Regions from separate parts of the Homo sapiens genome. Here region 1 is linked to region 2. Evidence: fine-mapped expression QTL. Tissue or cell type: whole blood. Region 2 holds a variant in brackets; the other region holds the start of a gene. All regions are shown on one strand. Distances are between the middles of the regions.

What was found. PIP is the estimated chance that this variant, and not a neighbour inherited with it, causes the effect.
Region 1: it holds the start of FCGRT, and the variant in region 2 is fine-mapped to the expression of FCGRT in whole blood (TOPMed, PIP 0.97).

What each region holds. Positions count from the first base shown.
Region 1 is chr19:49,511,680-49,514,357 of GRCh38, forward strand. FCGRT (Fc gamma receptor and transporter) reads left to right here and starts at 982. Exons shown (of 7, transcript NM_001136019.3): 1 at 982-1,071; 2 at 1,708-1,794; 3 at 2,203-2,454; 4 at 2,532-2,678. The coding sequence starts at 1,722. RefSeq lists enhancers at 2-564, 2,492-2,678.
Region 2 is chr19:49,490,187-49,492,864 of GRCh38, forward strand. RPL13A (ribosomal protein L13a) reads left to right here. Exons shown (of 8, transcript NM_012423.4): 3 at 46-111; 4 at 289-390; 5 at 593-678; 6 at 854-913; 7 at 1,239-1,361; 8 at 1,543-2,122. The coding sequence ends at 1,629. It overlaps SNORD33 (small nucleolar RNA, C/D box 33), which reads left to right and starts at 431; the gene lies at 431-513. It overlaps SNORD34 (small nucleolar RNA, C/D box 34), which reads left to right and starts at 721; the gene lies at 721-786. It overlaps SNORD35A (small nucleolar RNA, C/D box 35A), which reads left to right and starts at 989; the gene lies at 989-1,074. RefSeq lists enhancers at 421-1,024, 2,190-2,429. The variant A/G (reference allele first, on the strand shown) is at 1,677.

The sequences.
Region 1 (2,678 bases), 21 kb after region 2:
CAGAAAGCAGATGAATGGTTGCCAGGGGTCTGGGAGCAGCGGCTGTTTAACGGGGACAGACCTTCTGTTTGGGGTGATAAAAAAGCTCTGGAACTCGGATAGAGGTGACAGTTGCACAGCACTGTAAATGTGTTAAATGACAGTAAGGGTAAATATTTTGAATATTTTACCACAATGAAATAAGTGTATGGGAAGCTTTGTAGCAGGAGTGTGGGCGGGGGCTGGTGCCTGGAGGGGCCTTCGAGTGAGGCAGCATTGTATGGGGACCATGTGGTCACTGAAGTCCTAGCAGAAGGATGTGGTTTTTTTTTTTTTTTGAGACGGAGTCTCGCTCTGTTGCCAGTCTGGAGTGCAGTGGTGCAATCTCGGCTCACTGCGACCTCCACCTCCCGGGTTCAAGCAATTCTCCTGTCTCAGCCTCCCGAGTAGCTGGGACCACAGGCCCACCACCACGCTCAGCTAATTTTTGTATTATTAGTAGAGACGGGGGTGTCACCATATTGGCCAGGCTGGTCTCGAACTCCTGACCTCGTGATCCGCCCGCCTTGGCCTCCCAAAGTGCTGGGATTACAGGCGTGAGTCACTGCGCCCGGCCCGCAGAAGGATATTAAAGAGCACCTGCAGGAATTTTTTAAGGGGATGCCGGGGGAAGGGCTTGAAGGAGGAACTAAGGAGGCTTCCAGAAGATTTTGATTAACAGCGAGCGCTAGGGAAGGCCACGGGGATACAGAGGGGTAGGAGGAGGATCCAGAGACCTCCAAGTTGTGGACTCCGGAGGCATCGAGTTCCTTTCCCAGTTTTGTCAAGAATTCCCTGAGCGGCAGACACCCTCAAAGTAAAAAACGGGAACCACAGAGAAGGAAAAAGAAGAACCACAAGCGTTTTGAGAAACAAACAGGCTGGGCCTAGGGCCTGGGGTGTGCCCTGCAACTGGGGGGTGGGGCTGGATGTTCTTGGAGTCAGGGAGCAGCAGCCTCCCACAGGATGTGAGAGAGGAACTGGGGTCTCCAGTCACGGGAGCCAGGAGCCGGCCAGGGCCGCAGGCAGGAAGGGAGCGAGGCTGAAGGGAACGTGAGCCGACCAGGGCCCGACTGAGGGAGGAGGGGCTGGGGGCCTGGAACCCTGGGTCTGAGGGAGGAGTGGCTGGGGGTCTCGACACTGGGTCTGAGGGAGGAGGGGTGGGGGCCTGGATTCCTGGGTCTGAGAGAGGAGGGACTGGGGGTCTGGACGCTGGGTCTGAGGGAGGAGGGAGGAGGGGCCGGGGGGGCCTGGACTCCTGGGTCCGAGGGAGGAGGGGTTGGGGGCCCGGACTCCTGGGTCCGAGGGTAGAGCGGTTGGGGGCCCGGACTCCTGGGTCCGAGGGTAGAGCGGTTGGGGGCCCGGACTCCTGGGTCCGAGGGAAGAGCGGTTGGGGGCCTGGACTCCGGGGTCTGAGGGAGGAGGGGCTGGGGCCTGAGGGGGGCGGAAGGGGCGTGGCGGAGCTCGGGGCCGGGACTCTCAGCCTATCAAGTGTCTGTAATTAATTAACCAACTGAGATCCAGTTCAGGGGTGAAAGTTCTTCAGGTACGAGGAGGGCATTGTTGTCAGTCTGGACCGAGCCCGCAGAGCCCCTCCTCGGCGTCCTGGTCCCGGCCGTGCCCGCGGTGTCCCGGGAGGAAGGGGCGGGCCGGGGGTCGGGAGGAGTCACGTGCCCCCTCCCGCCCCAGGTCGTCCTCTCAGCATGGGGGTCCCGCGGCCTCAGCCCTGGGCGCTGGGGCTCCTGCTCTTTCTCCTTCCTGGGAGCCTGGGCGCAGGTGAGGGCCGCTCCGGGCCAGGGCCCTGCTGCAGGCGGGCGGCGGGAGGCGGCCCCAGGCAGGCAGGGGCGAAGCCAGCGGGACCCGAGTTCCCCGCGAGCCCCTGGCGCTGCCTTCTCCGCTCAATTAACTTTCTCAACGTCTCCTGCTGGGCCTGAGGCTGGGAACCACCTGTCGCCTCTTGTGTCTGTTTCCCTCTCTCTCTCTGGGTCTCTGTCCCCCTCTCTTTCTGGGTCTCTTGTCTCTCTCTCTCTGGGTCTCTGTCCCCCCCCCCCCGGGTTTCTGTCCCCTCTCTCTGAATCTGTCCCCCTCCCTCCATAATAGATTCTTCTCCCTCCCTGGGTATCTGTCCCACTGCAGTCTAGTTCCCCGCCCGTGTGCTCCCTTCAGCTCTGTTTCTGTCTGCAGAAAGCCACCTCTCCCTCCTGTACCACCTTACCGCGGTGTCCTCGCCTGCCCCGGGGACTCCTGCCTTCTGGGTGTCCGGCTGGCTGGGCCCGCAGCAGTACCTGAGCTACAATAGCCTGCGGGGCGAGGCGGAGCCCTGTGGAGCTTGGGTCTGGGAAAACCAGGTGTCCTGGTATTGGGAGAAAGAGACCACAGATCTGAGGATCAAGGAGAAGCTCTTTCTGGAAGCTTTCAAAGCTTTGGGGGGAAAAGGTGAGATTCCGGTCTGGAGGGGCAAGGGGCCGGGTCCATGCTCCGGGGCCCCGCTTACCTGTGTTTGGGCGCCCCAGGTCCCTACACTCTGCAGGGCCTGCTGGGCTGTGAACTGGGCCCTGACAACACCTCGGTGCCCACCGCCAAGTTCGCCCTGAACGGCGAGGAGTTCATGAATTTCGACCTCAAGCAGGGCACCTGGGGTGGGGACTGGCCCGAGGCCC
Region 2 (2,678 bases):
GACCCTCAGGCGGCTCGGCCCTGCTAAGCCTTTCCCTCCCTCTAGGCCGGAAGGTGGTGGTCGTACGCTGTGAAGGCATCAACATTTCTGGCAATTTCTACAGAAACAAGTGTAAGTTAGGACCTGGGAGGAGCACTGGAGAGGGTCTCCCTGTGGGGTGTTGAGGCTCTGAAAGCAATTGCAGCCGTGTTGGGAGAGGCTACTTGGGGTTTCTGAGAAGGCCCTTGGAAGTGGGGTTTTGGGGGTGCTGGTAGACTGGGCAGGCCTCACACTCTCCCCTCTCCCTAGTGAAGTACCTGGCTTTCCTCCGCAAGCGGATGAACACCAACCCTTCCCGAGGCCCCTACCACTTCCGGGCCCCCAGCCGCATCTTCTGGCGGACCGTGCGAGGTGAGCAGAGCGTGGGGACTGCAGGTGGTGACGGGCAGGCGGCCGGTGATGAGAACTTCTCCCACTCACATTCGAGTTTCCCGACCATGAGATGACTCCACATGCACTACCATCTGAGGCCACCCCATGGGCCCACCTCAGTGGGGTGGGTGGGCATCCTTATGAGGCCCTCTGACTGGGCCTGCTATCTGTCACCCAACAGGTATGCTGCCCCACAAAACCAAGCGAGGCCAGGCCGCTCTGGACCGTCTCAAGGTGTTTGACGGCATCCCACCGCCCTACGACAAGGTGAGCTATGCCAAACCCCACAGGCAGCGGCCTTACCTGTGGCGTCCATGATGTTCCGCAACTACCTACATTGTTTGATCCTCATGAAAGCAGCACTGGCTGAGACGCCAGTCCAGCCGACCTCCTTCCCTGTCTGTCCCTCCCGGGCTCTTAAGCCCCTCTCTTTCTCTAACAGAAAAAGCGGATGGTGGTTCCTGCTGCCCTCAAGGTCGTGCGTCTGAAGCCTACAAGAAAGGTGAGTCCCAGCTTACGCTGCACCATCTACTTGGGAGATTTCAGGCCTGCTGAGGGACCTGGGGACCTGGAGCCTGGCAGATGATGTCCTTATCTCACGATGGTCTGCGGATGTCCCTGTGGGAATGGCGACAATGCCAATGGCTTAGCTGATGCCAGGAGGCTTGGGTGGGTGCTTTTCTAACAGGCCTGCAGAGAACAGTTGCATTATGATATGCCCAGCTGTCAGTCACCTCCCAGCTCTCAACAGCTCCGGCTCTTCAGGGTGTGGGGGCTTAGATATCCTTACAACTTCATTTGTTCACCCCCCCCCCCCCCCCCCGCAGTTTGCCTATCTGGGGCGCCTGGCTCACGAGGTTGGCTGGAAGTACCAGGCAGTGACAGCCACCCTGGAGGAGAAGAGGAAAGAGAAAGCCAAGATCCACTACCGGAAGAAGAAACAGCTCATGGTGAGGCCAGGGGCTGGTGCTGAGGGGGGCATCTCACTCCTGGACAGGCCTGGCAGGTGCCTTGCTCACAGAGTACTCTTAACTGGCAAAGGACCAGCCGGGGTTGGGGTGGGATGCAGTCCATGTAATGAGGGCAATGCAACCCCTCCTGACCACCACCACCTGCACTTATTCTTGGCAGAGGCTACGGAAACAGGCCGAGAAGAACGTGGAGAAGAAAATTGACAAATACACAGAGGTCCTCAAGACCCACGGACTCCTGGTCTGAGCCCAATAAAGACTGTTAATTCCTCATGCGTTGCCTGCCCTTCCTCC[A/G]TTGTTGCCCTGGAATGTACGGGACCCAGGGGCAGCAGCAGTCCAGGTGCCACAGGCAGCCCTGGGACATAGGAAGCTGGGAGCAAGGAAAGGGTCTTAGTCACTGCCTCCCGAAGTTGCTTGAAAGCACTCGGAGAATTGTGCAGGTGTCATTTATCTATGACCAATAGGAAGAGCAACCAGTTACTATGAGTGAAAGGGAGCCAGAAGACTGATTGGAGGGCCCTATCTTGTGAGTGGGGCATCTGTTGGACTTTCCACCTGGTCATATACTCTGCAGCTGTTAGAATGTGCAAGCACTTGGGGACAGCATGAGCTTGCTGTTGTACACAGGGTATTTCTAGAAGCAGAAATAGACTGGGAAGATGCACAACCAAGGGGTTACAGGCATCGCCCATGCTCCTCACCTGTATTTTGTAATCAGAAATAAATTGCTTTTAAAGAAATCTGGCGTCTTTGCACTGTGTCTGCTGTGGAGGCAGGCCCCTGGCAAATGGGGGGTGAGGAGCTTGAAGAGGGTAGAATGGGCTGTGCTAATATACAGAATATATGTAACTTGCTATAAATTGAATGATCCTTTATAGACACCGTTTACAAACCAAAGACATAAAATGTGGCCAGCAGTGCCTGGTGCTTCCTAGTTAATGTAAAGCTGTCTCATTCTAATTCAGCTGCAAAGTATGGACCCATGCCCTGCTGCCAGGCTGCTGTAGTCCCGGCGGTCTGTAGAGACTAGCATTTTGCAAATGATAAGCACTAGAATAACAGATAACGCTAGGCTTTATGCACTAAGAGAACCCATTAGATCTGCCAGTCTGAATCCCAGAAAGGGCACTGATACAGAGCATTTAGTACTAGGTAGCAATTTCATAAAATGTCCCTGGTCAAAGCTTGCTGGAGCAGGCCCCGTTCCCATTTTACTGATGTCTAGCAGTCGTGTTCAGTAATACGTCATACCCAGGTCTCCACGCTAAACAGCCTAAACACTAAAAGTAAACATGC